3 separate regions of the Homo sapiens genome follow, and regions 1 and 2 are each linked to region 3. Evidence: fine-mapped expression QTL. A gene starts in region 3. Each other region holds a variant in brackets. All regions are shown on one strand. Distances are from middle to middle.

The links. PIP is the estimated chance that this variant, and not a neighbour inherited with it, causes the effect.
Region 1: its variant is the best candidate, but not a certain one, in a credible set for the expression of LBH in whole blood (TOPMed, PIP 0.80).
Region 2: its variant is the best candidate, but not a certain one, in a credible set for the expression of LBH in whole blood (TOPMed, PIP 0.66).

The regions. Positions count from the first base shown.
Region 1 is chr2:30,245,264-30,255,845 of GRCh38, forward strand. All of the region lies in intron 2 of LBH (LBH regulator of Wnt signaling pathway), which reads left to right. Among named protein-coding and RNA genes, the nearest start is that of LBH, 19 kb to the left of the region's middle. The variant G/A (reference allele first, on the strand shown) is at 7,354.
Region 2 is chr2:30,256,681-30,267,262 of GRCh38, forward strand. LBH (LBH regulator of Wnt signaling pathway) reads left to right here. Exons shown (of 3, transcript NM_030915.4): 3 at 753-3,348. The coding sequence ends at 941. Among named protein-coding and RNA genes, the nearest start is that of LBH, 30 kb to the left of the region's middle. RefSeq lists enhancers at 9,310-9,924, 9,925-10,539. The variant G/A (reference allele first, on the strand shown) is at 2,739.
Region 3 is chr2:30,227,636-30,238,217 of GRCh38, forward strand. It overlaps LBH (LBH regulator of Wnt signaling pathway), which reads left to right and starts at 3,899. Exons shown (of 3, transcript NM_030915.4): 1 at 3,899-4,129; 2 at 6,770-6,872. The coding sequence starts at 4,104. RefSeq lists enhancers at 2,565-3,080, 3,081-3,595 and silencers at 3,399-3,948, 4,149-4,238, 4,629-4,828, 4,839-4,898, 8,594-8,801.

The DNA of each region.
Region 1 (10,582 bases), 18 kb after region 3:
TTGCCGTCAAATTCTTATGGTATTTGTAATCCATTTAGTACATTTAAAAGAGTGGTATGTATATTTTATTTTAAAATGTCAATATGTATAATATATCAGGGATTTTAGAACATGTGAAAGGAGACAGAGTTGTTCAGAATTCCACTGGGGACTACACTAGAAGTTCGGAAACCATGGATACGTACACTTTCTTCAGAATCAAAGCGATGGCACTGTAGGTCCTCAGAGGGGAGGGCAGCTTTGAGCTTGGTCCTATCACCTTGATAAGGAATGTCCTCTACAGTAGCCTGACATCGGGTTACCTAGATATTCTTTGGACACTGTGACACAGAGTCCAGAACCTCTCAGCACAGAGGGATTACAGACTTAAGAATCCGGATAACTGGTTTCTAATCTTGGCTTTGCTGCTACCTATGTCATCTCAGGCAACTCACATCACCTATTTGGGCCTGATTTCCATGTGTATAAGTGAGAGAACTAATCCTTATTGTGTTTTTTAAAAGTCGAATAATGACATGAAATCCACCATCCTAATCCTAAGATGTGCCCGTTGGAGTTTAAAAAACAAAAGCAACAACAAAAACCTGTTCTTTCCCTACCTATCAGCCTTTCAGATATCAGAAGGCACCTTTTATGTTCCCCTCAAATCTTTACCAGTTTTAAAATATGTTGTTTTTCAACCTTGACTTACATAGTCTTTTTTTTTTTTTTTTCCCTTGAGACACAATCTCACTCCGTCACCCAGGATGCAGTGGTGCCATCCCAGCTCACTGCAACCTCCGCCTTCCGGGTTCAAGGGATTCTCATGCCTCAGCCTCCCAAGTAGCTGGAATCACAGGCGTGCACCACCACGCCTGGCTAATTTTTGTGTTTTTAGTAGAAATGAGGTTTTGCCATGTTGGCCAGGCTGGTCTCAAACTCTTGACCTCAAGTGATCTGCCCGCCTTACCTCCTAAAGTGCTGGGATTATAGGCGTGAGCCACTGCACCTGGCCCATAGTCATCTTACTGAGGATTATTTCTCCAGGCCAACTATTCTCAAACCTTTTGGTCTCGGTCCCTTTCACACTCTTAAAACTTATTTTAGGACTACCCAAAGAGCTTCTGTTCATGATTATGTCTTTTGTTTTGATTATGTCTTTTGATATTTACTGTTTCAGAAATTAGAACAATTTTCAAAATTTTTACTTATTCATTTAGAGTAACAAAACTGTTACATGTTAATGTAAATAACAGTTTTTAGTAAAAAATATATTTTCCAAAACAGAAAATGTTTAATGAGAGGAGAGGCATTGTTTTACGTTTTTGCATGGCTGTTTAAAGTCTAGTTTAATAGAAGACTAGGCTAGACTCTCATGTGCTTCTCCAGTCAATCTGTTGCAGTATGTGTTGGTTGTTGGTTGAAGTCAATGAAGGATATCTAGCCTATGCAGATTTGTTTCTTTGGTACTTCACTAGTTTTTTTCCTCTTTCTTTCTCTCTTTCTCTTTTTTCCTTCCTTCTTTCTCTTTCTTTCTTTCTTTTTCTTTCCTTCCTCACTCACTCCCTCCCTCCCTCCCTCCCTCCTTTCTTTCTTTCTTTCAGCGTTTTGCTCTGTCACCCAGGCTAGAGTGCAGTGGCATGGTCATAGCTCACTGCAGCCTCCAACTCCTGGACTCAAGTGATCCTCCTGCCTCAGCCTCCCCAAGTCCCTATGACTATAGATATGTGCCACCATGCCTGGCTATTTTTTTTTAATTGTAGAGATGGGGTCTCACTATGTTGCCCAGGCTTGTCTTGAAATCCCGGCCTCCAGCAGTCCTCCCACCTCAGCCTCCCAAAGTGCTGGGATTATAGACATGAAACACTGTGCCCAGCCAACAAGTGGTAGTTTCTTAAATGTTAGTGGCAATGTGATATCTGACATCTTATCAATGACCTTTTTGTACACTAAAATTCATTAGTCTATTTTGCACTTTGAGTGCATCTTTTACCCATGCTTAGTGTAATGTTCTGATCATTTGGAAAATATAGGTTCACCAAGTTATGCAGGTCTTCAAAATGTTGACTCATTTCATTATACAATATCATAAAATCACATTTCTTAATGTCTCTACTGATCTCAAGCATTAGGAAGCTGTCAGGCTCATGGTGGCTGATACAACTTTTTCAAAATTCTAATTTTCACTTGAAAGCTCTATTTTTATCATTGGTGACAAATACTGTTATTTTCCTTGAAGTGACAGGCTCACTTTGTCACTTTGTCCATTTTTGAGAAAATGCCTGCCAAATACCCAAGTTGGAATAACTACAATTTGTTGGTCATTCTTTCAAGTAAGAATGGTGCTCCGTGGCATGAGCGGCTAGTTCAGCTGGCAACTCTGTCACATGACTGCTTTCCTCAAGACAGCTGTTGTACTTCCGTCAGCAGCAGAAATGTTGTAGGCTAACTGTCCATTTCACTGTGCCACATACATAAGTGACATGTGGTTGAGTCAATATTTAATATAAATTACTTTTTACCACTTCATCAAGGGCATTAATTTTTTTTGTTTGCTTGCTTTCGTTTTAATCGTGAGGGTGAGCTGGCGAACAATTGATGATGCCAAGTATGGTTTGCTGCCACTATGTTAATTCTCGCCAAGGTGCCAGCAGTTTCTTCCACTGTTGCTTTCTATACCCTTAGTGCAAGTGTTAACACTGAAAAAGGCAAACGACATCTTAGTATTACTATGAAAATATGTTACCTCTGTGGAGGCTCCCTCACTGAAAGGATCTTGGCAGTTGAGCTTGGAGAATGGCTGCCCTAGGCTAAATAGAATATGCCTGATGAGAGGGTAGCAGGTCCATCAGCTCTCTGTTAGTGTAGATGGTTTCATTGAAAGGCATATACCTCTAGGAATATAGCCCTATTTGCTTCAGTTGTTAGCCTCAATGCTGCAGTTGTGATCAACTAAAATCTCCAAGCTTCTTTTATGGGAGCTACTATCAAGGAAGACGTCTTGCGTGGGGCAAAAAAATTTTTTGTGGAGGACAAAGTGAGTCGTCCTGGTAGTGCACTGTAGAATGGGTAGAGACGGAATGAAAGTGGAGTAAAGGCCGTGGGGCAGGGCTGCAAGGAAGGCCTTCGAGATTTGTTTCCATCCAGGGATGTTTTTGGAAGCTACGTGGTGGGGGTTAGGAAGGGAACCCAAACAAGAAATGGAAGGCAATGGGACAGGCTAAATATTCAAGATTTGTGTTTCCAAAAAAAGAATGCGGGGATAGTTAGAAATGGCAGCTGAGAGAGGTGTGACCATGGGACATTGGGTAGTACTAGTGGAGGGAGGATAGAGAGACGGATGTGCCACCCACAGATGCCTGGAGGTGACAGGGGGCCAGTCTTCTTTCCAGAAGGTAATGATGATACAGTCAAAAAGTCGTGAATATTTGAAGTCATCTGTGCCTGATAACAAGTCTTTTCTCACTGCCCCGGAGAAAAAAGTTCTCTAACATTCCAAAAGCCTCCTCATTCCACTGGGCCCAGAGTTAGCAGTAGAAATTAGTGCAATTAATTAGAATTTGGAACTCCTGACTCGCAGGATGGGTGTGTGTTTGAGAGATGTTTATGAAAGATGGTGTTTATCCAAAGGATTTCCTTTTCTTTTAAGTTTCAAGGCTGGAGGCTTAAGCATCTTTGATCCAAAGGAAGGAGGTCTAGCAGTTGTTATAAGCCCCAAATCTTTGCTTAAGTCCTCTATAGGATTAGAGGCACCAGGGCAAGGCAGAACAGAGTGAGGTGGATGTTCTGTAACCCCAGTCCAGGGGAGATTTAAGGAAGATGAGAGTCTTAAAGATGGACAGTCTCTGAGTAGAGACTGGAGAATATTCTTCCTTCCCTGCATCTAGTTAGTAGCCCTGCTGCCCCTTTGCTACAATTCTTTCTGTTCTTATTAGCCACATTTCACGTGGAAAAGCCAGTAAAATGCAAATAATAATAATGATGATAATAAAATAGCAGGAGGCAAGTATTTCAAAGACGGAATTTCTTGCCTTCACACATTGTTAGGGGGCAAAGAACAGGTGGGTTTTTTATTTGAATTAGCTGCTGCTTGTTCATTCATCCCTTGGCAGAGCAGGATGCTGGTAGAGATCTGCCCATTGTTATAAGCCAGCCCATCGTAGGAAGGAAGGAACACACAAGGCAATTCATTGTTGTTCTCCAGGAGAAGTAAGAAATCCAGACGTTGGGAAGCTGAGGGGCAGGCCCCTGGAGTAAGTGAAAGGAGGAGGTAGAAGAAGAGGAAGGCCTCTGGTTGGGGGCGGGGTAGTGACAAGGGCATGGTTTTCATTCCCCCGGTCCTAACCCACGCCCTGGGGAAACAGAGCCACAGGGAGGGAAGTGATGAATGAAGTTGCAGCCATTTCTCCTAAGAACTCGGCCTAGGATTTGTGGGCACAAGCCCAGGAGTGCTGCGTATTTGCTCCTGTCCCAAGCCACAGCTGTTGACCCCTTGGTTCCTCACTCTAAATGCTGCTGGGGGACCCCAGCTTTACCTAGTAAGAACCATCATTAGGAAGGTAGAGTTTACAGGGCATGTTCACACATACCTGTGTTTGATTCTCTCCAAAGCCCTGCAAGATCAGCATTAGCACTGACCCAAATTATAGAGGAGTAGAGGAGGAGAATAGGCCACCGCTTCGATGAGCCTGTCAGGCACTGTGCTGGCTCTCAAGGCACAGCACTGTGACCTTGCCAACCATACCGTAAAGTGGAAATGATTTTCTCATTTTACTCGGGAGGCAGCTGAGGCTCAGAGGCGATAAAATGACGTGACCAGGGTCATAGCGATAATAAAAGATGGAGGCGAGGAAAAAGCCAGATCCTTCGGACTCTGTGGTCTGCCTGTGGGAAGAGCAATTTTCCTGAGCGGGTTTGGGCTGATTGTTCTTACTTCTCTGCAACAAGAGAGGGTAGAAGCTTACTGTGTGGTTTTGTCCACAGTGCCTTAGGGAGCTAGCCTGGTTATGTATCTCAGGCTCGCTCCCCTCCCTCTCCACCCCCGGCCTTCCTCTTTCCTCTTTCCACCTTTGCAAAAAAGAGCAAGATGTCCAGGCTCCTGAGGTCTCAGCTTGCAGAGCTGGTCATTAGCCCTTTGTGTCCTGCTAACCACCTTTCATCTCCTCTACCTGCTGGTGTCCGCTTTCCCTATTAGCATCTCTCGGCTCTTTGCAGAGCCCTCGGCCTCTTTGTGGCCAGCTTGGGTTGTTTGTCAGATGATGGCTGAGAGATGCACACTCAGGGGAGGGTGGCTCTGACCAGGAGCGCTCACATTTTCCATGCCAGGTGCCAGGCATCTCTCTCCTCTCCCACCCCAGGGGCAGCCAGGTTTAGGTCACCTGGCATGGAGGCAGACAGTTGATAGCCCGGTCCCTAAATTTGGGGCCTTTGAAGCCCTGGTGTTGCCTTTCAGTTCCCCTCCAAGGGTGAAATGGGAACTGGCTCACCGGCAACTTTTATGCCTAAGCAAGAAGCCTGCTGAGGAATTCCTGGTCTCCAGAAGCTCACCCTCAGGCCCAGGATTCTCTGGTCCAACAGCCTCCACTGTTGGTCGGTCAAACAAACGCCCTGGGATTCCCAGGAACATCCTGCTGCCTTCATCGTCCGCATACTAAATCATCAATCCAACGAGGCAGCCACTCGCCACACAGGGCCATTTAAGGTTACATTAAATTGATATTTATAGTATATAATATAAATTTCTATTAATAAAAATTAAATAAAAAATAACACTTTAGCCACCATTCTTATTTTTTATTGTCAGTAGAATTTTTTTTTTTTTTTTTTTTTTGAGAAAGGGTCTTGTTTCGTCACCCAGGCTGGAGTGCAATGGCACAATCTCTGCTCATTGCAGCCTTAACCTTCCAGGCTCAGGCAATCCTCCCACCTCAGCCCCACAAAGTGCTAGGATTACAGGCATGAGCCACCCGTGCCTGGCCAATTTTAGCCACCTTTCAAGTGCTCCATAGTCACACATGGCAAGTGGCTACTGTACTGGACAGCGCAGATAGAGAACATTTCCATATGCAGAACATTCTTTTGGACAGCACTGATCTATACAGCCAGAAATTCCAGTATCTTACAGACCATCTCTTCCTGCTACGAAGCCTTGAAGCTCCCTTGACCTTTCAAGTGAATTCATTTGAGTTCCCAAAATGCCACGGCCTGTTGGGACTGGAGGCCACCAGGCAAAGGATGCCTCCGAAGAGGTGTCCCCTGTAAAATTCACCATCACCATGGCCAGGCATGGTGGCTCATGCCTGTAATCCCAGCACTTTGGGAGGCTGAAGTGGGAGGATCACTTGATCCTGGAAGGTTGAGGCTACAGTGAGCTGAGATTGTGCCATTGCACTCTAGTCTGGGTGACAAAACAAGACCCTATCTCAAGAAAAAAAAAAAAAAAAAACTAATAAAAAATAAGAAAGGTGGCTAAAATTTTTATTTTATTTTTATTAACAGAAATTTATATGTGATATAATATAAACATCAATTTAATGTAACTTTAAATGGCCCTGTGTGGTGAGTGGCTGCTTTGTTGGATAGATGATTTAGTATGAGGATGATGAAGGCAGCAAGATGTTTCAGGGAAGCCCAGGGCGTTTGTTTGGCCGACCAACAGCAGAGGCTGTTGGAGCAGAGAATCCTGGGCCTGAGGGTGAGCTTCTGAGATGAACAATGGTGCTTACTTTTCTACACAGTGGAGAATGCAAGACCTGGGAGATTCATGGTGTGTGTAAATGTCAAGGCTTCATTCCATTTGCAAAGGATGGAACTTGGTGATATGGCTTGGCCGTGTCCCCACCCAGATCTTATCTTGAATTGTAGTTCCCATAATCCCCTTGTCTCATGGGAGGGACCTGGTAGGAGGTAATTGAATCATGGGGGCGGTTACTCTCATGCCATTCTCATCATGATAGTAAGTGAGATCTCATAAGATCAGATGGTTTTATAAGGGGCTTTTCTCCCTTTGCTCGGCACTTCTCTCTCCTGCCACCTTGTGAAGAAGGATGTGTTTGCTTCCGCTTCCACCATGATTGTAAGTTTCCTGAGGCCTTCCTAGCCATGTGGAACCGTGAGGCAATTAAACCTCTTTCCTTTAGGCCAGGTGCAGTGGCTCATGCCTGTAATCCCAGCACTTTGGGAGGCCAGGGCGGGCGGATCATGAGGTCAGGAGATTGAGACCATACTGGCTAACATGGTGAACCATCGTCTCTACTAAAAATACAAAAAATTAGCCGGGCGTGGTGGCGGGCGCCTGTCGTCGAAGCTACTCAGGAGGCTGAGGCAGGAGAATGGCGTGAACCCAGGAGGCGGAGCTTGCAGTGAGCAGAGATC[G/A]TGCCACTGCACTCCAGCCTGGGTGACAGAGCGAGACTCCGTCTCAAAAAAAAAAAAAACCTCTTTCCTTTATAAATTACCCAGTCTTGGGGATTTCTTCATAGTAGCATGAGAATGGACTAACACACTTGGTGTCCATTGGATTCATTTCAGCCATCAGCTTTGGCAGCCCAATGTGGCTGCTGGATGTGGAGTCCAGGGCTGGCAGAGGGAGGAAGGTGTAGGGCTGGGAGAATCACAGCTGGGGGTGGATTCTTCTAGACCTGCCCTACCCTGGGCTGAGGGTGAGAAATGCCTCTGAGAGCTGCAGAGAGAAGGGAAAATGATTTGTGTTTGTTTTTGCCTTTCTGTAGTACAGAGAGAAGGAGCACTTTGGGGAAAGAGGTTTAACCAGAAGCAGTTTCTTTTGGGAACAGGGGCAGTTCTTTACTCCCTGCCAGTTCCTGCAGGCAGGCAGCATGCCGGCCTGGCCTGCCGCCTCAACCCCTACCTGTCATGTGCTTGGCAAGTCTGACTCAAGTCCTTTTTTCCACTGCCTACCCCACCCGTCAAATTGCAGTTGCAACCTCTCATTTTTCTGCTGCCTAGATGATTAAAAAGCATGACTTAGTGGAAAAATGTTGACCTCCTTGGGGTCAGCCTCTGAAGCAGCTGTCAGAGATAAGATTGTGCTGGCAAATTACTCAGCAGCACTTTGCAAGGCTTTCTGTCTGTCTGTAAGGAAACCAGAAGCTGTTGGTTCTGGGTACTTTTTGTGTTTGGAGAGAGCTACAATTTTGAGGCCCAAATGGGTATAATCTGATAATAAAATAAGATCTCTGATGGAAGGGTTCGATTATTGTAGTAATTTTTAAAAATACAATTAATAGGCTTTGTAAACAAACAAACAAAAAAATTTAAACAGTGCTTGCTTCGAGCAATTCAGGGAGCAAAGTCCTCTGGCAGCTAAGCAGTATCAGAAGTTCAATTCTCAGACCTCTTGCAAGGTCTTAAAAGACTTAATTGTGGAGCTCTCGGTATGAATGGCGCTGTTTGGAATTATTTTAATTACTGTGTTCATATGACTCCCTCTTGCTTGGAGATTGGATGCTTACTGTAGTTCTTTTGAAACTGCTCCAAAGAGGACATTATAGTTTCAATTTTGCTTATGTCCTCAAAGTATTTTATCATCTTTATATTTGCCAAGAACTTGTACCCATCTAGTGAGACAAGAAGGTCACCTCATGTCTCAAAAGGAGAAACTGAGGTGTTTGGGGTTGAGAGGACTTGACCGGAGTTATACAATGGTGGTCAAGGACATAGTGAGCACCTGGGTTGTGTGGCTTAACCCATGCTATCAAGTGAACGCTTCATTTGAAGTCCTACAGGTCTGAGTTTGGATCCCAGTTCAGCTGCTTCCCAGGTGCGTGGCTTTGAGCAAGTCACATACCGTCTCTGTGCTTCAGGTTTCTTATCCACAAAATAGGGTTACAGTAGTCCCCGTTATCTCTGGGGGATACGTTCCAGGACACACAGTGGTTGCCTGAAACCACAGATAATACCAAACCCACATATGCTATGTTTTATCCTATACATCCATACCTGTGATAAAGGTTAATTTATAAATTAGACTCAATGTGAGATTAACAATGATAGCTAACAATAAAATAGAACAATTATAACACTATACTGCAACAAAAGCTATGTGAATGTGGTCTCTCTCTGTCTCTGTCTCTGTCTCACAATATCTTATTGTACCGTACCTACCTATCTTGGGATTGCAGTTGACCGTGGGTAACTGAAACCAAGAAAAGCAAAACTGTGGATAAGTTGGGGGGTGGTAACTAGAATTATTGTGAGGTTTGAGATTCTGCTCAGGAAAAATTTCATCCATCATCATCATCATTAGATTTTTTTCCTTATTTTAATGAAAGACCTGTTTCCAGCTTGAAGTGAAATCCAATGCTTCCCACCCCTCTCCTCCTCTTCGTCCTCTTCCTCCTCTCTTCCTCCTCCTCCTCCCCCTCCCCCCCTCCTCCTTTTGCTGGGCCTGCCCTGCTTGTCATGCCTTTTGCTTTTCCTTGGCTTAGGCTGTCATAGTTAGAATTGGGTTTTCACTCTCCCAGCCCTGACAATGTGGCCCTGGCACAGGTAGGCACAATCCTGGCAGTGAGGTCAGAGGGTGGAGGCAGGGCCAGGCTCTTCACAGGGCAGGTCCCCCTCTCCTCTTGACAGCTTATGGCGCTGTCTTGGATCCTGAAGGTTTAAAACAAGCATTGGGACTGGGAAGCTCACCTCCTGGGCTGGGGCCCTCACAGCTGCCTGGGCAGTGAAGGCCCAGAGTCTTACTCTCCCTCCCTGCTCAGTTTTCCATCTGTGAAATGGGGTGGAGACCCAGCAGCAGCCTAATCCATTTTCCAGAAGGCTCAGGCACTGAAAACAGCAGATGTAGGTTTGAATCCTGGCTCTGCCATGTGACCCACAGAGTCCCGGGTCTTACTATTCCTAGAGTGGCAGTGAGCCCTGAACGAGCTGACATCTGAAAGAGCTTCGTGACCTGTAGTGGGCTTCCCTCCATCGGGGTCCCTCTCACCCACTCTCAGAGCTCATGCTTGGAGGGCGCCTTGTGTCCTCACAGCCCATGGGGGGCTCTGGCCCCACCCAAGAAATGAGGACGCACCCAAAAAGCCCACGTGGCGCTCCTCGCTCGGCACATGCACGTCTGGGCACAGCGCCGTCTGAGGGCAGAACTTCTGGGCCAACCTGGTCAGGAAGACAGAGCCCAGAGTCGGGGTCCGTGTCCCCCTCTGCCTCCGTGACCCACACTGGCCCATCCCCTCCCTGGACTTGTTTTCCTCCTGGCTGCCATTATGATACCTTTTATGAGCCTCGTTAAGTCTTTAATGATGCCTGGTTGTGCAGCTGGCTTAAGGCTTAATCCCCAGCAATAGGTCTTATTGGATAAATGGTTAATAATCACTCGTTTGCAGGTATTGGGAAGGCTTCACTGAGGCCTGTGATTCCTGGAAGCCCCACGTGGCCTGTGATGTGGTGAGAGTGTGACTTGGCTGGGGCAGCACTGCATGGGGTTGGGTTGCAATAAGACCGGGTATCCTCAGAGCACCACAGAAGTTGGGAAGGCCTGAGTTTGTAAAAGGGCCTTTCTTCTATGTCCTGGTAATGGGTGACTCCTGTCTGCTGCCGTGGGCCTGTCCCCATCTGGATCAAGGTGCAGGCAGGACCAGGCAGC
Region 2 (10,582 bases), 29 kb after region 3:
TAATTTTTTTTGTATTTTTAGTAGTTTACCATATGAGAGGTTTCACCATGTTAGCCAGGATGGTCTCGATCTCCTGACCTCGTGATCCACCTGCCTCAGCATCCGAAAGCACTGGGATTACAGGTGTGAGCCACCAGGCCCAGCCCAGACCCAGTTTTCAATCTCATCCCATCCCTCACTCATTTCTAGGCTGTCTGGTCTTGGACCACCTACTCTCCCAAGCCTGAGATTCTTTAAGCTAGCATTAGCAACACCTGTTTTTCAGCATGACTGTGTGGGTTGGAAGTGATATATGTATAGCACCTGGTAACCTGCTCACTTAGTGCCAATAATTATTCCGGGAGGTACTTAATGCTGTGGCACCTGTTGTATTCTTTGTACTGCTGGAGTAAAATACTTCCTGCAGAGAGAGACCAGACTTACTGTGGATAACATGATTTGGGATGATTTTATCTGCAAATAAAATACAGAATCCAAACAGAATCACATCAACCTTTAAACTCAGCGGCACTGCCCCCAAACTTTCAGCTTCAGGATTGGAATGGAAGTCTGACTGAGGGACAGTTTCCTATGTTGCCCCAGAATATTCTCCCGTGGCTCCCACCTTATATACTCCACAGCCTCCCGAGTGCAAAGCACAGTCCCTGGCCTATGGCATGCACCCAGTATGCCACATGGATGTGCAAAGAAGGAATGGAATTTCTCTTTTCAAATATCTACGTGACCAGGCACCTGCTCTGCTTTTCTTTCAGATCTTCCCAGACCCGTCAGATTTTGACCGCTGCTGCAAACTGAAGGACCGTCTGCCCTCCATAGTGGTGGAACCCACAGAAGGGGAGGTGGAGAGCGGGGAGCTCCGGTGGCCCCCTGAGGAGTTCCTGGTCCAGGAGGATGAGCAAGATAACTGCGAAGAGACAGCGAAAGAAAATAAAGAGCAGTAGAGTCCCTGTGGACTCCCATGGGTCATACCAGCCAGCATCTGTTCCTGAACTGTGTTTTTCCCATCATGACGGAAGAAGAGAGTGAGCCGCAATTGTTCTGAAAATGTCAAACGAGGCTTCTGTTTTGCACCTGCAGATCACCGAGTTGGTTTTCTTTTCTTTTCTTGCCTTTTTTTTTTTTTGAAATTTGCCGAGCAGTGGAGCCCTCTGACAATTTGCAAGGCCCTCTGAGAAAGGAAGCTGCTTAGAGCCAGGGGGTTAGTGGGTGAGGGGAGCGAGTGCTGTTTTTGAGATCATTATCTGAACTCAGGCAGCCTAGTAGAGGCAGTGGTGGGATTCCAATGGGTCTTGGTGGGTGGGAGGTGGGGCATGTGCAAAGCAAGCAAGGAACATTTGGGGTAAGAAAACAAACATGAGGCAAAAGAAAAAATACATGTTTTTAAGAAAACATTGAGCAGAGAACTGCAGCCAGGATGCGCTCAGCAGACATTCACTCTGGCTGCTGGGACATCAGAAAACAAAGTCTTCATCTCTCTCTCCAGTTTCACCCACCCCACCCTTTGCTTTCATTTCAGGTGTGTTGGTCTATATGACAGGGAGGAGAGTAAAGGAGAGCAGGAGCAATTGGCTGCCTGCAAAGCCAGCTGGAGGTGAAGTGCAGGAAAGGAAAGGTCACCCCATTCTACTCCATGGCCTCTCTGCTCCCAGCTGTGGTAGGCTCACATAGCCAGTGTGATCGGTTTTTAAGAGGCAGTGCTTTTCAGCTTTTCTCCCTGATATATCCATTTTGCTTCCCAGCACTTTTTAGGAGTAGTGAGAGCACTTCCTGCCCTTGTTGGAAGCCCCAGGGTGGACACTCAGCACGAAGGTCTCTCCCTTAACTGCTGCCCTTCCAAGACTTGCTCCCGAGATGGAGTGGGCGTGGTCTTCCAGGCTGGCCCTTCCTTCTCCTCACCGCCACCTTCCCTGCCCCAGCCCCAGCAGCCATGGGTACATGGGTCCCCAGCTCACCTATGGATTCCCGCCAGTCTGCCCAGCTGCAGTACTCACGCCCCATGGGGGATCTTGGTCTGTTTTTCTTGTGGGAGCCTAGTGGAGAGCAGACGTGGCTTTTTATGTGTCTTGTTGGGGAGGTGACTTGCATGGTGGGGACAAGGCTGTCGTGGCAACCTTGGGATCGAGTTTGAGACTAAAGGATGTCATGAGATCCCTGGCTTCTCCCCATGTTGTTCCCGGACAAGGGCAGAAGGGAGGCATGGCAAGGGACCTCTGCTGTCCTTACTCAACAGTGGTCCTCATCCCTCCCCACCTCCCACTGCTTCCTGCAAGGGCACCAGTTGTATGAGAAAGTTGGCCTTTGGACTTAGGATTTCTTATTGTAGCTAAGAGCCATCTGAAGCAGCAGGTTGCAGGACAAATGCTTCAGTCCGCCGAGAGCAGTACCGTGTGGCCAAGAGGTGGACTCAGAGCCTTCCTTGAGCTAAACTCGGCCAACCAAGGCACGCAGCATGTCCCCTCAGGTCTCCAGTCAGTCCAGGTTGACCCTCAGTTCTGGACGTGTGTATATAGCTGTATTTAATACCTCAAGGTCATTGTGGCTCTGGGGATGCCGGGGCAGGAGGACGAGGGTGCGCTGTGGACACAGCAGTCCGCGGAATTCCGTTCTGGGAAGCCAATGGTCGCCGGCACCCCTTGCTTCCTCCCTCTGTTGTCTGCCTGTGTGACACACATCAATGGCAATAACTTCTTCCAACTCCTCGCAGAAGTGGGAGAGGCCGGCAGCCTGCACCGAGAGGG[G/A]CTTTCCTCTCTCTTGCTCCCCGCTTCGTTCTGTTTTGGCTGCAGAGAGTGGTTCATCCATACTCTCATTCCCTCGCCTCCCCTTGTGGACGGGGGTCTTGCCTTTTCAATTCCTGTGTTTTGGTGTCTTCCCTTATCTGCTACCCTGAATCACCTGTCCTGGTCTTGCTGTGTGATGGGAACATGCTTGTAAACTGCGTAACAAATCTACTTTGTGTATGTGTCTGTTTATGGGGGTGGTTTATTATTTTTGCTGGTCCCTAGACCACTTTGTATGACCGTTTGCAGTCTGAGCAGGCCAGGGGCTGACAGCTAATGTCAGGACCCTCAGCGGTGGAGCCTGCTGGGGGGACCCAGCTGCTCTTGGACAAGTGGCTGAGCTCCTATCTGGCCTCCTCTTTTTTTTTTTTTCAAGTAATTTGTGTGTATTTCTAACTGATTGTATTGAAAAAATTCCTAGTATTTCAGTAAAAATGCCTGTTGTGAGATGAACCTCCTGTAACTTCTATCTGTTCTTTTTTGAGGCTCAGGGAGAAACTAGCATTTTTTTTTTTCCAAACTACTTTTTGTCACTGTGACAGTTGTAAATAAAGTTTGAAAATGCTTTCCACTCTGGTCTGGTTTCCTTTTTCCCTTCCTGTTCCGTTGGAATGGAGTGAGCTCAGGAGCAAGAAGAAGTCCTGCAGGAGGCTGAGCTGGGGGAGTCCCAAGAGAGGCTCCTTATGTAGCTCACCTGATGGCTTGTCTGGGGAGAATTCACTGGGGAGATTTAACCCACAGCCAAGGTGTGAACTACCCTTCTAAAGGAAGAAAAACCCAAGACATATCTGAAGGTCATTCACAGGGGCTGGAGGGTGAGTGGGTGGGCATGTGGCAAGCTCAGGCTATCATGCAAAGCATTTACTGAGCACCTACTGCTTGGCAGGCATTAGTAAGAGGTCAAGGTCACAAATGGCAATGGCCCTGGTTCTCATGGCCCTGCCTTGGTGAAAAATTAAATGACGAATATGGTGAGTGCAAGGCAGGATCAAACTGGGATGCCCTGAGTGTGAACATCAGTTGGGAGGGTCAGGAAGGTCTTTGGAAGCAGTGACAAGGAGAAGTTAGCCAGGTACTAGGTGGCAGGGAGCAGAGGGGAGTTGGGGGCATTGGAAAATGATTCCAACAGGGAGAACAGCTTGGCAAGGGCTTGGCGGGTGGAGTGGTAGAAGAGGAAAGCATGCAAGAGGGCTACTCAGTCCTGGCTAGGAGTTTGGATTTTATTCTAAGGGAAGGACCTAGCATGGTCTGTTTCACATTTTAATACAACCTGGCTCAATGGAGATGGGATTGGAGGGGGCAAGATGAAAAACCTAGAGACCAGGAAGGAGGCTTTGTGGAGGTCAGAGTGAGAGAATGGTGGTTTGTAGAAGGGATTTGGGGGCATTTTTCTAACCCAAGGCTATTTTTGCCTTCACCCAGCCCTCCTCCGGGTTCCTTAACCTTGGTAAGTGTAGAGAATCCAGTGGTTTGTGCTGAAGGTGTCTACCAGGATTTACAGAATAATGACCCATTTTAACACTAGCCTTAGTGAAACAACTAGATCTATGGATCTGCTGCCCCAAGGATAACTGGCCGGACTTTACCCTCCTCATATGGATTGCCCCTTTATTTTTCTCCAGCAGCCTGAAGAGGAATTTATTAGAATGCAGCCTCCTTGAACACACCCCTGCAGAAAACTGTCTTTATTTGCAGATGACATCATCTGTGTAGGAAATCCTATGAAATCTACACAAAAAAGCTACTAGAACTAATAAATGAGTTTAACATGGTTGCAGGATCAAAGCTCAATATTCAAAATGACTGCATTTCTATATGTTGGTAACACCGACAAAAAAAACAAACACTGCATGTTCTCACTCATAAGTGGGAGTTGAACAAAGAACACATGGACACAGGGAGGGGAACATCACACACTGGGGCCTGTCGGGGGGTGGGGGGTAAGGGGAAGGAGAGCATTAGGACAAATACCTAATGCATGCAGGGCTTAAAACCTAGATGACGGGTTGACAGGTGCAGCAAACCACCATGGCACATGTATACCTATGTAACAGACCTGCACATTCTGCACATGTATCCCAGAACTCAAAAAAAAAAAAAAAATAACAGAACCTTGACATTTAAAATGCAATTTACATTAACATAAAAAAATATAAACTATTTAGGAGTAACTCTGATGCAAAATATGCAAAACCTCCAAAACAATGAAAACTGCAAAACACTGCTGAGAGAAATCGAAGAATCCCTACATCAATGAAAGCTCTACCATGTTCATGGATCTGAAGACTCAATGTTAAAATGTCAATTCTCTCCAAATTGATCTATAGACTCAACACAATCAAAACCTCAGCAAGCTGTTTTGTAGACATTGATGATCTAATTCTGAAACTCCTATGGAAATGGAAAGAACCCAGACTAGCCAAAACAACTTTGAAAAAGGAAACTAAAGTTGGAGGACTCTCAGTTCTCAGTTTCAAAAACTTAATACAAAGCTACAGTCATCAAAACAGTGTGGTGTTGGCATCAAGATTGACAAATAGATCAGTGGAACAGAATAGAGTCCAGAAATAGACCCACAGATGTGTGGTTAATAGATTTTTGACAAAGGTGCCAAGGCAGCTCAGTGGAGGAAGGAAGTCTTTTCAACAAGTGGTACTGGAACAATTGGATATCCATAGGAAAATAGCCCCTGGTGATGAAAGATGAGTCTTCACTTCTGTCTCCCACTGCCTCCATGTGACTTTTAAACAAAATAATTATTTGTTTGGAAAAAAGTTTCGTTATTCTTTTTCATGGTTAGCCAGTTGCTTCAATACCCTCCTGCTTCACCCCAAGTTGCCTCCTCTTCCCTGAAGGAGAAGGATTGGGTGACACCTGGCTGACTTTGCTGTGTTATTCGAGCTGACTTGCATTCGAGTCCTGTGCAGCCCCTCCATAGGTGCTGTGGGGCCATTTTGTTAATGTCTAGGATCCTCAGTGTTCTTGTCTGTAAAATGGATATAAGACTAATAACTCCCGCATAGGGGTGTGCAGATTGAGCACCCAGTAGGTGTTCCACAAGTCAGGATATTTTCTGTCTCTCTTTTGAGGGCCTAGTTGCTAAGGAACTAACTCTGCCTTCTCTCTGCTGCTTTTTGCTTTGGGTCCTTTGTGGACACCAGATACAAAGGTAGCTTCAAAGTGAAGACAAGATTCAACTCCTTCTGTCTGCCTCCTTTTCTTCATCACCTTGAGAGGGGAAAGGCAAGGAGAAGGGAACTGTAATGCCTCTGCCCACCAAAGATTGGAGAGGGAAGAGAGGGAGGTCTCTCATCAGAGAGGGTCTATACCTCTGCCTGACTCCTCTTTAAAGAGAGGATCCTTGGGCAGAAAACTCTTTGAAATGACAGTTGAGCTTTGACTAGACTGGGAAGAGATTCTAGGTGAGGAGACAGCAAGTGCAAAGGCCCTGGGGTAGAGATTGTCTCCATCTTTTTGAGGAATGTCTATGAAGCTAGTATGTCTGGAGTAGAGAAAAAGAGAAAGCTGAGAGCAAACACCACAGAGCAGTGCCTCATGGGTCCTCATGAAGGTGAGTTTCAGAATCACTGGTGCCCATTGTGAGAAGCCTTCAGGGAAGGACACAGGCTCACCAGGCATCCCAGCCCCTGAAATCCATTGGTCAGCCCATTTAAAGTTGCCCAACTGGTGGCCTACGGCAATCGATGTTGAGGGACCTGAGGCACTGTCACATCCGGAAAGGACTTCTGGATCATCAGAGGAGGATTAGATTAGGTAGAATTCAGTCTGTACATCTGTCCTTAAATTACTGAAGGGTGATTGTCGCTAAGAGCATTGGCTCCGAGATCAGACCCCTGGATCTGTAGCTGAGCCCTTCCTCTTACTAGTTGTGTGACCTTGAGCAAGTTACTTTTCTTTTCTATGCCTCACTTTCCTCATTTGTACAACGAGTACCTAACTCATAGGGTTGTGGCGACACCTAAATGCATATTACAAGTAACATGCTTGGAACTTTGCTAGACACATAATAAGTGCTCAAGAAATGTTAACCATTGTGAGGCCGGCCACGATGGCTCAAGTCTCTAATCCCAGCACTTTGAGAGGCTGAGCCGGGCGGATCACCTGAGGTCAGGAGTTCCAGACCAGCCTGACCAACATGGAGAAACCCCATCTCTACTAAAAATACAAAATTAGCCAGGTGTGGTGGTGCATGCCTGTAATCCCAGCTACTCGGGAGGCTGAGGCAGGAGAATCACTTGAACCCGGGAGGCGGAGGTTGTGGTGAGCCAAGATCGTGTCATTGCACTCCAGCCTGGGCAACAAGAATGAAACTCCATCTCAAAAAAAAAAGAAAAAAGAAAAGAAAAAGAAATGTTGGCTGGGCACAGTGGCTCACGCCTGTAATCTCAGCACTTTGGGAGGCCGAGGTGGGCGGATCACGAGGTCAGAAGATCGAGACCATCCTGGCTAACGCGGTGAAACCCCATCTCTACTAAAAATACAAAAAATTAGCCGGGCGGGGTGGCAGGTGCCTGTAGTCCCAGCTACTCGGGAGGCTGAGGCAGGAGAATGGCGAGAACCCGGGAGGCAGAGCTTGCAATGAGCCGAGATCATGCCACTGCACTCCAGCCTGGGCGACAGAGTGAGACTCCATCTCAAAAAAAAAAAAAAAAGAAAGAAATGTTAGCCATTGTGGGAGACAGAATAATGTCTTCCACCCCCACAGATGTCCATGTCCTCATCTGAGGAACTGTGAATATGTAATGTTACATGGCAAAGGGGAATGAAGTTTGCCAATCAGCTGACCTTGGCTTGGGGAGATCCTGGATTATATTTGAGCCCAATCTAATCACAAAGGTCCCCATAATGAAAGAAGGGGGCAGGAGAGTGAGTCAGAGAGATGTGAAGATGAAATGCTGCTGGCTTTGAAGACAGAGAAAGAGGCTGCCAGTCAAGGAATGCGGGCACCTCTAGAAACGGCAAAAGGCAAGGCCATGATTCTCCCTAGAGCCTCCAGAGGAATGGAGCCCTGCCAACACTTTGATTTTATCCTAGTAACAGCTATTTTGGACTTCTGACCTCCAGAACTGTAAGATAATAAATTTGTTGTAAACCACTAGGTTTGTGGTAATTTGCTAACAGCTACAATAGGAAGCAAATGCAGCCTTTATCATCACAACTGTGATAATGATGATGATAGACTTTTCCCGCATGGCCTCAGAGAACAGGGATGAGGGAGTGAATGGAAGGGGTTGCAGTCAGGCTAAAGCCACCATCCAGCAGTTGGAGCCCACAGCTTCCTAAGGATCAGTCTTCTCTTGGCGCCACTAGCTAGAGGTATCTCTCAGACGGAGGGAGCCATGACTGACCTAGGACTAGATAAATTTGAGGCTATAGATCCCTTCTTCTAGAATTTCAAAAATTAGTGATTTGTGTGTGATATGATCATCAGTATAGTCTTGAATCAGAATATTCATTAGACTACTCCCTTCTCTCTGTTTACCTGGATAAAAGGTCCTACTTTGACATGCAATTCATTTGCAATATTTCCTTTGCCGTTTTCAGTCAGAAAACTGTGAATTCACACTTTTCTATTATTGGCGGCTGCCAATTGCAGAGCACTGGTTTACCTCCATTTCTTCTAATTCTCATCACACTTCTTGCAAAGTGTGGGTTTTCGTATATATAATGAAAAGTATATTTAGCACAAAGTACATTTAGCAATGATGGAAATTATAAAAGATGGTGAAATTTAGGGACTTCATCTTTCAAATCCCATCATGGTAACATATCAGTTATTTGCATTTTGGTTTCCTTCCAGTCATTGTTCCCCCATACTTACCAGAATGGGCTCAATGAATATAAATTTTTCCTACAAAATGGACATTTTTAATGTTACTTTACAGATGAGGAAGCTGAGGTCAGAGGACTTCAAAATATACTGACTTTGGAAAACAGTAGAATTAGAACAAATGGTGTGCTGGTAAATGTGTAACAACCAGCCCTCTGAGATTTAAAAAAAAAAAAAAAAAAAAAAAGGCCCTGATTCATAGTGTTTGCCAATTTCCATGGTGTAAATGCTCCCACCATGGCTGATTTTGTGGGACTGGATGAGATGGGAGCCAGTGCAAGCCTGCAGCAGCACACCTCTGGAATCCCTGATCCTCCACTTCTATGCTAGAAGGAAATGGGCTCAGCCTGCCTGAGCCTCAGTCTCCTTTTCAAGAAGATGGATATCACTCAAAACCAGGACAGTGCCTAATTCACAGGGACTCAATAAACTCTAGTGCCCGTCCTCCATTTGGAAAAGAGAAATCATTCTGGAAAGTTATCTGGCACAGTATTTTTCAAGCTAAATCATGACTCATTATGGGGTTGTGAAAGTAATCCATTTGTGGGCTGCAACCAGAATTTTTTAAAAAAGAAAGAAAACAAATAGAAAAGACGACAATAGAAGAGGAAAAATCAGAGTACAGCAGATATAGGAAGAATAAATGTTATTCCCTGAATTTTTTTTGTTTCATCCCTACATGTGGATAAATGTGTGTACTTGGTCATGAAAAAAAATATTTTTCTTTCTGTGGGTCACAGTCAAAACAGTTTGAGAGCCACTGATCTGGGGAATCTGGCTTTCTAGAAAGCAGTACTTTTACTTAGTGGAGTCATGGCAGTGGGAGAGAGGCAACTAGAAAAAGTAGCTTAATACATCTCTCTGCAGAGGAAATGGGGCTGGCACACCCAAGGGTGGAGACTGTGTGGTCAGTGTGTAGGGGACAAGCCTGGGAAGGCCACTATGTCCTTGGTCTCCTCCAAGGCCAGGATTAGGCTCTGGGTAGCCTTCAAATCGCTGCCGAGCCCTGGAGGAGGGAGGAACTGTGCATGGGGAAGGAGGCGGAAGCTACACAGGAAACCCTCACTGCATGTTTGTCACTGCTGGCACCCACTGCAGCAGCTAGCAGACAACCAACAATAGTGACATCAGGTAAAAAATAACCCACAGGGTCCCAGCCCTACCGTGCAGGGGCAAGGGCATGCCGTCTAGAGGGCTGCAGTGTCACCAGGCTACAGCTGGGGTCATGCTGCCTGGCGCCATGCTGTGCCTTGATTTCCTGATTGCTAATTAGAGGGCACTTTTCCTGCCCAAGGTCACTTGGGCTGGCGCCAGCAATGGGGCCACTTGCCTGCAGAGTTTTTCCTCCCCCGATCTCTTGCACAAGGTGGTATTTAAAAAATCACTCATGCCAAGACCTTCAGGTCTGAATGCACCACCTCTCCCAGGGGGACTCTCATCTTAAAAGAAGGCCCCAGCAGTTCTTACCCAAAGGATTGTCCCAGGCAGGGCCTGTGCAGAAAGCCCCAGCAGCCTTACAAGCCTCTCCTTTGGCTACGGTAGGCTATGACCCCAGGCCCTGTGCTGACCCAAAAGCACTTCCCGCTGTTCTCCAAACCTTTCTCTCCAGACCAAAGACACAGGCTCCCCATGGTTCCCCAGCACTGCCAGCTGGTACATGCTCCCACACACCAGTGAAGGGTGTGGAAGGCAGAGCTACATCAGATGTTACCGTATTAGGCCATTCTTGCATTGCTGTAAAGAAATACCTGAGACTGGATAATTTATAAAGCAACGAAATTTTAATTGGCTCACGGTTCTGCAGGCTGTACAGGCATGGTGCTGATATCTGCTTGGCTTCTGTGGAGGCCTCAGGGAGCTTTCACTCTTGGCAGAAGGCAAAGCAGAAGCTTGCACGTCACGTGGTGAAAGAGAAGCGAGAGAAAGCAAGGGGATGGGAGAGGTGCCACACACT
Region 3 (10,582 bases):
GGAATGTGTTGCTTAATGATCTTTTTCTTTGAGACAGGGTCTTGCTCTGTTGCCCAGGCTGGAGTGCAGTGACGTGATCATGGCTCACTACAACCTCTGCCTCCGGGGGCTCAAGCGATCCTCCCACCTCAGCCTCCTGAGAAGCTGGGACTACAAGTGTGCGCTGCCATGCCCGGCTAATTTTTTAGTTTTTGTAGAGTCAGGGTTGCACCGTGTTGCCCAGGCTGGTCTCAAACTCCTGAGCTCAAGCAATCCTTCTGCCTCAGCCCCCTGAAGTGCTGAGATTATAGGTATGACCCACTGCACCCGGCTGCTAAATGAATTTATATGGAGACTTTTTTTTTAACTAGATGAATGAACTCGCTACCTGTCCTGCATACACAGCATCCTTGCAGCTGAGATAACTCTAATAATATCTTAAGCTCATTACCTTTATTTTTTTTTTAATTTGTATTTTAGGTAGGTAAGAGAAGGTGCTGGCAAAATGGATGTATGTAATGTCAGAAAGCAAGGCAATTCTGATTACACCTGGATTCTATTGAAGCAGAATTGCAATTCAACTCTTTAGTCTCCAAAGACAAAGACGGGAGAAGGGAGGGAGTGCAGAGGCTCTGACTGGGTAATTAGTTCACTGATCTGCATCTAGTAGATGTTCAATAAATGTTGGTGATGGACTGTGGTGGTTTACAGAGTCCAGACGTTGTGTTTGACCTTTGCTGCTGACTTCTTGGCAAATGCAGTGCAAGACGCAGTGTTAAAGTGGAAAGAACATCTGACCAGCAGTCTGAAGACCTGCGTTAGGTTCCATCTATACCACTTAATAGCCTGGTGACCTTGGACATGCCATTTAATCTCTTAGGTGTCTTCTCACCTGTAAAACGAGGAGACTGGGACAAGGTGATTTGGAAGGTCTCGTTCAGCTCTAAGGTTCTGGGGCTCTAAGTAACTTCATTCGCTTGTGTTTCTGTTTCTTCATTTATTCAAAGGCAGTAGGGACAGAAACCTATCTCATAGGATATTGGGAAGAAATGGTCAGTGTGCATGTTGAAATACTCTGTATCTTTAGAGATATGAAGGAAAGGCAGTCAGCCAGAGCTATGTTAACAGAAGGGGAAGCTGAGTATGCCTACAACCTCTGAGTTCCAGGCCCAGCTCAACCACTTTCCGGCTGTGTGATCTTTGGCAAGCCTCCTAATTTATTTCGGCCTCAGTTTACATATCTGTGAACTGAGGACCATAAGTTGTGCTATGTTAACCTTATCACATTCTTTTGAAAGCCAAGACAATGAAATGCTTCAAAAAAAAAAAAAAAACCTGCAAGGCATCATATAGACTAGTATAACTGAGAAATGGCATGCTAGTTATGGTTGCATCAAAGCTTAGCCCCACGCCTCCCATATTTTATTTTATTTATTTTATTTTATTTTATTTTATTTTTTTGAGACGGAGTCACACTTTTGTTGCCCAGGCTGGAGTGCACAATTTCGGCCTACTGCAACCTCTGCCTCCCAGGTTCAAGCGATTCTCCTGCCTCAGACTCCCAAGTAGCTGGGATTATAGGCACCCACTACCACGCCCAGCTAATTTTTGTATTTTTAGTAGAGACGGGGTTTCACCGTGTTGGTCAGATTGGTCTTGAGCTCCTGACCTCAGGTGATCCACCTGCCTCAGCCTCCCAAAGTGCTGGGATTACCAGGCGTGAGCCACCGCACCCAGCCACCTCCCATATTTTCAAATGAATGGATGTGTCACTGTGATTCCAGAGGAGAAACAGAAAATGCAGACTGGGGATCACAACCCCAGGCTTATTTCTATTTTAACTTACTGACAGAGATGAACTTTAGCTAAAATGGGCATTAATAAGTTTCCCAAAGAGTAGGCCTCAGGTAATTCCCTCAATGCACTCCAATGTAGAGGATTTTTCCAGAGGCCAGATAACAGCTGGTGGAGGCCTTACTCCCCACCCTCTTCTCCAAAATGAGGCCATTTTGACATTTAGATATTTGGGAAAATGGGGAGGGAGGGAAATAGCTTTCTGAGTTTTGAAAGCTTCACATGGCAATAATCACAAACACATAAAGTGTGTCTGTTATGTGTAAAAGTGGCGCAACAGTCTTTGATCCCAGCCTCACCAGAGATTGCTACTGGGAAGAAGTGGCAGAAGGCTTCATCCTGCCCACCCGGGGTCTAGCCCAGACATTTTCCTCTGAGTGCCTGGAAGTCTCAGCCTGGAAACTAGCTCTCCAAGCATTGGCGTCTCCTGTGGCTGCCTAGATGACAATGTGCCACACCTGGCTAGTGACACTGAGAAGCTTCCCCACCCTCTGTGCAGGACATCAACAATAACCCCATCCCTGCAGCATCTCCCGTTTAGCCCCTCCATCAGGCAACACCCCCAGAGGAAGAGAATGCGTTTAGCTTGGGAGGTGGGGGAATTTCTCTGGTTGGAGGGGGCAGCCAGGGGCTTGTCATGAAGCTGTGTTTTCATAGGAAGCACACTATTTTAACTCAGGTTGTACATATAAGCATATAAGTGATTGAAAATAGCCCAGTTATTTTTAAATAAATTATTCTCATCAATTCTTATAATTTTTGTTTGGGCTGGTTTTGCGGGGACTGATGAAAATTATGAGGGTCTTCTCTCACGGCTTCCTTCAGGGTCCTACCCCTGTCGAACCTTCGCCATTAATTCTGTCATCCTTTTGCCTGAGATAAGCTATGCGTTTCCACTTTCAAGTACATATATACGGATTCAATACACTCACTGCCTTTCTTTTAAAAAGCTGATTCACTTCAAAGCCAATTTAATTTTGCTTAGTTTTTGATCTCCCCGCGCCCCCTTTCCTCAGCCCCTATACACAGGTAGGTGAGGGTTCTAAAGCCATTTTACAGGCGTGATTGAAGCGGAGGCCACAGAGCGGCAGCGCTGGGTCCCGAGTGAGACTCCCATCATGTGGCTCTGGGGGGCTGCGCAGCTTTGACTGCCTGGACAGACGCCCAGAGCTGCAATTCCTGGGCAGTGTGGGAGGCGTTCGGCTAAAGCTCTTTGTTTCTGCTGTCATGAGCGACTCCTCGGAGAAGACGTGGGAGTCAAGGATGGGGGGCGGCGTGCACACCGCCCGCCCACACCTTCTGCCCCCGCTGCAGACCGGGCGTATGTGTGTCTCCAATGGAAAAATCCTACCCAGGACGACACCACATCCTTGCTCCCACAAATAAAACCTTCCACGGAACTCAGGGCTGCAGACCAGCCCTTCGCAAGCCAACGCGCCCCGTGGGCACTCGGTCCCCCGGCTCCGCGTCTCTGCCACCTTCCCACCGCTTCTTCTTTAACCATGCTCTTGTTTCCCCTCGCTGATCGCAAGGCTGCGGGCGAGGATTCCAGAGAGAGGCCTAGTATGGGGAACAAACGCTTCAGAGGGGTCCGAGGTGGGCTGGGGACAGCCAGTGGATGGGAAGGAGGGCGCTGGCGCCGGGCGGCTGGGGTGGAGGAGTGGCGGGTGCCCTACCCCGGCGCAGAGCAGCCGCCGAGCTGTCATGTCCCGAGCGGCCCCCGCGCCCTCCTTGCGCCCACCTCCGCCGCGCTGGAGTTCGGGGTGTGCGTGGAGGGGGCTGTGAGCGGGAAGCGGCGCGGACGCGGAGTCCGGGCCGGTGCGAGTGAGCGCGTGTGCGCGTGGGAGAGCGGCGGGAGGGGGCCGGGCTCGCAGCCGCAGCGAACCACGGCCCCGGGAGCAGAGCCGAGCGCGCCCCCGAGCCGCCGCCCGCCGGAGCTGCGAGCGCTGAAGCCATTCATGATTTTGGTGACGTTATTCCAGGAGTGGGCGAGGGAGGGCGGGGCCTCTCGGGGCCAAGCCCCGCCCCCGCCCCTATAAATACGGCTTCCCGGGCTCTTTGTGGGGCTGAGTGCTCAGTGGAGAGCGGGGAGTTGTGTCCACCTTGCCGACGTCGCTAGCCGTGGGGCTGTCCTGGGAAGGCGGACGGCGAGCGCCCGGTGTCCGCACTCGGCCGCCTGCCGTGCCCGTCTGCGCCCGTGTCATCCTCACTCGGGACGCAGGGACCGTTTTTAAATCACAGGGGCGTGTGTCAGCCTGCCCTAGGACTTCATGTCTATATATTTCCCCATTCACTGGTGAGTACCCTGCGCCTGCGGCGGGCGTCTGTCTCGCGGCGGTGGCTGCGGGCCCGGGCGCCTGCTTCGTGCCGGCTCCGGGTGCGAGGGCAGCCGGCGGCGCGGGCGCTCAGCGCTAACCCGCCGCCCGAGCCCGTGCAGGAGTCAACGTCAAGGTTGCAAAGGTGGGGGTGGGGGGAGGGGGTGCTGAGAACATCCAGACAAAGGACGTGAACTCGGAGCCCTCACCTAAGTGACGGCCGGAGGGTTTGTATTGGTTGGCGGGGGAGCCAGGGGTCACGTGTGAATCCCCCCCAATGAAACCACCCTATGCGGAGAGCTGCAGGAGGCGCGCGCCCCACTTGGCGCAGGGGGGCTCCTGCTCTTCCCGGGCCCCTCCTCTTTTTCTTTTTGTTTGCATGCAAGTCTCAACGTCGAGGCCGGCAGCAGCGGGGCTGAGCTGGTGCGGCCGCAGGGTTTGCAGAGCTCCGGGGGGGTGGGGGGCGGGAAACGCTCTCCCCACACGTAACCCCACTAAAGCCACAAGCAGCAGGGCACGCGCTGCAGCCTCTCAACCCCTGCCCTCTCCACCGCCCCTAAAAACCGACGCACATTGGTGGGGGCCGGGACTGGGAGGAGCCGCCTTCGCCGTGCTGAAGGGGAAGGAGCCCGGGCCGGGCGCGGGGCGTCGGAGGTTTGCCCCGGACTGGGGATCGGAGCCGGGAGGGATGCAGAGAGAGGCAGGCCCCTGACTGCTGGGACTTCCTTGCTGGCAGTTTCTTCCTTCCTGCTCTGGGTTAGAGGAGAAGCGGCCGGGGGCGAGCGCCGGCAGCCCCGGAGCGCGCTCTCAGGTGCGGACGTGGGGAGCTCGGCCCCGAGTCTCCGGCAGGCGCTGAGCGAAGGGAAAACCGGCGCAAGCCGCGGCGGGGTCCGGCCTGGCCCAAGAAGCGGAAAGTTCATGCTTCTCGCTTCAACTTTTCGGGCCGGCGCCACAGCCCCGAGCGAGGAAGAGCCGCCCCTACGTCAGACTCTTCACCCTGCGTGCGCTCTTCTGGCTCCTTTCTTTGGAGGTCGCCAGCAGCCTTTCCAAGACCCGGGAGGAAACTGCCTTTGCAGGGCCCAGCTCCCGAACCTAAACTTGCCGCAAAGCCCCGCATCTTCTGTTAGTCTCCCTGCCCCCATCCGTCCCAGCCTGGCAGTGTTTAGAGAGGGGACTGAACTTCCCTCTCTCAACAGTTCAAGTTCCCCCACCCCGAGGCTTGTGTACCCTTCTTGTGGGTGCCCCTCCCTTGCCTCTCCCGTGGTGTGTGAGCAGCTAGGTGCCTTATTATAGGTGAAGCTTTGAAGGCTGTTGGAGGCTTTGTGCCTTTGGCTGCTCAAAATTTGCCAAGGTGGGTGTTTGGACCCATTAAGAATATTATGAGAAATTAAGGTTTAAGTTTATTTCATCGATTAGCACTTTGCAGCTTGCAATGCTTTTATGCAGACATTAGCCCTTAACCTAACTGTGAGGTATGCACTATTAGCATCAGAGTAACAGACAAACAGGACACTTGTGGCTCAGAGAAGTTACAGGACCTGTTCAAGATCACACAGTTCTTGAGGGGCAGAGCCTAGAACCTATTGCTTCTGTTTCTAAATCCAGTGTCATTTCTTATCTATGTAGTAACCATACAATTGAAGAGGCATCTGGTACCCCTGTTTCCTTAGATACTGTCCCTCAAAAGACTCCCCCATATTTTTGTTTTAAACCATGTGCACAGGCACGATGGTGGAAAGCATTGGGTGCTGTGTAGCAGGTACCTGTATTTGGTGCTTATGTTCAGCATTATGTGCACGGGATCCTGTATGTGCCCAGAGTTTGTGCAAGGATAAGGGAATATTCGTATCCTGCTTAGAGAGTACAAGGCACTTTCACATGTCAGCCATTGGTGGGCCAGCTTGGCCCCTCTGGAAATTTCCTTTGCAGTCAGAGTCGGGTATCCTTAAGGCTTTTAATCCAGGGGATGTTTTTCAAGCTGTGAGCATGCAGCTGCTGTGTCTGGGGCTAGAGAAAGGGGATGGATGGCAGATGTGAAACTTGCAGAAAAGCTGACCCCTTGGGGCTTTAAGTGGAACATTTTGCCAAAAGGAGCACCAGAGAGACAAATTTAGGAAAGCTGTATGATTGGACTTTGTTTCCCTCCAGTTGACCTGTTATTGTTATTGTGTATTAATAATATATAGAGTTCCCCTTTGGAAAGTTCATGTGAGGATTATTTTTATTCTTAGTTGGAGAAGTGAAGGGAGATGTGGTTGAATTGGTTTTAATATAGACAGATGGACTCAGCTACCTACTGTTTTGGTTTCTCTGGTTCTGTCATTTAAAGAAACATTCAGGGTCCCTCTGTGCCAGTGGGGACTAGAGTACAGGAGAGGAGGGAAGAGGTTTGCCAGAGAGGTCTGCAGACAATGGGCTTTGTCTGTTGCGGCTGAGCCCTGGGGCTGTGGGCTTGCAAGGCGCTTCCTCAGGGTGTGAGCTTGTTTTGCTGCAAGTTCTGTTTTGAACACCTCTCTTCCTGTCTCCAGACAGTCCCCTGATCCCACAGCAGTGAATGCATGAAGAGTTAGGAATGTGAAAGCGCGTGTGTTTGTTGACTTTTGGTCTGGGTTTCTTGGCAGCCCCGACTATCTGAGATCGGCCAAGATGACTGAGGTGATGATGAACACCCAGCCCATGGAGGAGATCGGCCTCAGCCCCCGCAAGGATGGCCTTTCCTACCAGGTGAGTAAGTCCTGGCTCCCCTCTGACTCTCTAGAGCCTAGTGGTTTTTGCTGGGGGTGAGGACAGACTTGGTTTTGCATCCCAGTGCCACATATAAGAGCTGTGGGACTGTGGCAGAGTCCCCTAATGCCAGTAAGCCTCAGTTTCTTCATCTGTAAAATGGGGCAACAATCGTCCTTATCTCCTAAGATTGTGGTAAAGATTCACCATGACAAGTGGATGTGTAGGAAGCATTCCTAGTGTCTGGGACAGATAAGGGCTCAGCAAGCATTAGCCATTGTGATGAATTGACCCTACTGGCTCTGTGAACTTTGCCATTCACCGCAGCAAAGGAGGAAATGATTTGTTTAGTCGATTGAGACCAGAACTTTCCTTCCCAGCCATGCCTGGGGTAGTAGAAGCATTGCTGTCGGGGGCTTCTGCAGAAGGGTGGTCTGGTGGGGATAGCCATGTCCAATGCTGCTTTCTTCCTTGGGTTGATTATTGACCTGTTGATTCAGAGTTAACATTCAAACCACTTAGAGAGGAAGATATTTTCCCCAAAGGGAGGCTAGCTCAGGGATGCTATTGCTGGGATCTTGCTTGGAGATCATCCTGTCTGGTGGATCCAAAATGCACAAGGATCACAAAAAGGGACCAGAGTGAGCCCTCTGGACTCTTACCCCAGCCCTCTCTCTGGCTTGCCCTGCTGCCTCTCTACTGCCCCTGGGTTGGGGGTGGGAGCAATGGAGCACCTGCAGTTCCCTCTGGGCTGTGAGCTGGTTTGGGGTTTTGGAGGAGAGTTCCTATGTTGTTAAACTGGGGGGAGGGAGGAGTCTCTTCTTAAGGAAGACCTTGGAGCTAGGGAAGTTGTGTAGGATGGCCAGCCCAGGGAAGTCGAAAGGGAGTGTGATGGGTCCATGGGTCCGTGCTACAGACATGAAGGTATGCCCACTGCACGCCAAGCACTCTACAGACGCTGCCTTGCTCACATCTTACCACAGCTCCCAGGCGGGGATCCTCACCCTGTTCACAGATGAGGAAATGGCTCAGCCTGAGTCAGTGACTTGGGTCTGTCTAACCCCAGAGCCTTGTTCTTCTGATGTATTGTGTGTCCACACCATGGCTTGGTTCCGCTAGGGTCTAGGTTGACTCTGGCTGGTCATTCCTTAGAACTGTTCCAGGGACATTTATTTTGTAAATTAAAAAAAAAAAAAAATCAAATAGAAAGCCAGGGAGCCAGGGTGGGTGCCATGGAGGGAAAGTAATCAGATAGAACCAAGCTAAAAGTTCAGGCAGGGTCACTTAACTTCAGACATGCTTGGGAGGCTAAGGAGGCCCCTTTGTGTTGTCTATATTGGCAGGCCTGTCTTGAAATAAGTAGCCATTAGCTTGAAGGGGGTGTGTGGAGCAAGGGGGAACTCTCTTTGCTACGTTTGACTTTTCTACCCTCCTCCCCCAGAGTGGGTCTGAGGAAGACAATTGAGGGCCCCTCAACCTGGTGGGAGGGGTAGAAGTTTCCTGGCCCACCAGCCAGGGGGTTTTGGGTAGCAGTTTCCAAGCCCCTGAGTCAGAATGAATCTCTTTGTGGTTACAGGTGAGGTTCTCTTTCGGTTCTGGGTTTTAGATTTCCATCACAGAACCTTTCCAAATGCAGTCATCTGTTCATCTTGTGTGTGCTTTTCATATTTTCCTTTTAAATACATCCCAGGATAAAGGGCCAGGCCCTATAGGGCCGTTTTCTCAATGCTTCGAGTCCTTCAGGCCATTCTGCTGGACCTGAGACTCAGGGCAGGTGGTGAGGGAGGAAGGAGCTGGGGGAGGAAGGCCAACCTGGGGCTGCAAGGGCAGCAGGAAAATAAAATCACCTCTGGGTGCCTGACACATCTCAGCACTGCCTGAGCAAAGGATCCACACATCTTCCCTTGTGGTGCTGGACTGAGGGCCCAGTTCTCAGAGCCCCCTCCCAGGAAATCTGTTTCTGCTACCTTGGTGGGGACCACTCCCCAGTTCCAAAATATCTTACTTGGAACTTCAGAGCACTCTGGTCACAATTTTTCACAGCTTTTCTGATTTCAGAAAGGTCTCTTGGTTGCCTGGTGAAGAGGAAAGGGAGATTGTAGTATTTAACCAAGCAACATTTAGGGGCACTTTCCCTGTGCAACCTGCTGTGCTGGCCTCTGTGCCCAGGGTCCAGGGCCCTTGTAAGAACCCAGCATCTACATAAACATCTGGAACACAGGTGGTGCAGTCAGTCCAGGTGGGGGACATACAGAAGCTACAGTGAGTCCAGGCATCGACAGCAACAATGAAATCCAGCCGACAGAATCAGAGGGAGGGCAGACTGGGGCTGGGCTCTGAAAGAAAATTAGGACTTTGAGAGGGCAGTTCCATCTCTAAGGTAATGTTCTTGCACCTTCAGATACCCCTGGGCTTGCCCCTGTTTATGCCAGGGGCAGGGCTGTGCAGTGAGCTGGTCTGACCATTGCGGTGTGACAGATATTCTCCGGGCCCACTCAAAGCTAGTGCCGTCCAATTAGACACATTCCCACCAGAGCTCTGGGGATTGGCTGGGACTGGCACTTGGCTGGAGCCCCTTCCCTTTGCATGCTCAGGCTCGGCTCAGGCCTGGGGGCAGGGGATCTCGGAGCTCTGTTCTTGGCATTCCTCCTAAGGATAATAATAGTACGTGGCTTTTACTGAGACCTGCTTTTCTAAGGAACTGAGAGTGGGAAGGAGACATCAATCCAGACTTGGCAGATGAAATAGGATCTCAGGCTTGTGATTTGACCTTGAAAGAAAGTCATCAAGTAAATGGCACATTGGACTTTGTCAGTCACTTCACTGCCTTGCAGATCTATCGAGAGTGAAGCTTTCCTGATTTCTCTGTACCAGCTGTGACGTTTCTTTTAATGCCTGTGGCATTTTGTACTTGCCAATGATGCCGCTTCGAGGATACGGGTCCTGTTTTACCTTCTCTTTGCCCAGGTCCTTGAAGGCAAGGGAGGACTTATCTTCATCTTTGTACCCTGCCCCCACCCAAGGTGCCTAAGTGCTAAAAGTGGGTGGTGGTTGTTTCCATGAAGTTGAGTCTCCTGATTCTAAAGCTGGTCACCTTCTCTTCTGCCTTAGCTTCTGGAAAGGGCCTCCTCACGCTCATGCCTACCAAGGTTTCAGATAGATGCCCTTTTAATCCCCTGAAAGATTCAAGGAAGCCCCAGCTACTGGTCCTGGGGCAGTTAGGGCTGTGTTGTGAGCCAGTGCCTTGTTTTGTAGTAACATTCATTTGGAGAGGCAGTTCAGTAAGGGAAATCCACGTGTGCACATTCACTTAACATGAATTGTGACACCCTGTGGGGTGGGTGAGTAAATGGTTGCTAGAAAGTCTGAGTACATTTTGGGCAGGCAGGCTGTGGGTGGCGGCCAGCTCACCAGCTGAGTGGGGAGGGTCTCCAGCAGGATGTTGATGTCCCTGATGGCAGCAGCTCCCTCCCCACTTCCATCCAGCCTGTGGAACAGGAATTTCTGCTGCCCAGTGCCTTCTTCCTTACCCTAATTCAAGGAAGCAAGTCAGCAGCTGCTTCTTTGGCTCCAGGGACTCTAAAAATATGGTGTTAGGGAATGCCTCTGCGACTGGGTCTCCTTCGATGCTGTGCCCGACTTGGCCTGGGCTCTGTCTGGGGAAGGGTCTTGGGAATTTGCCTGTGGGCACCGACACTGCCTCCACCCAA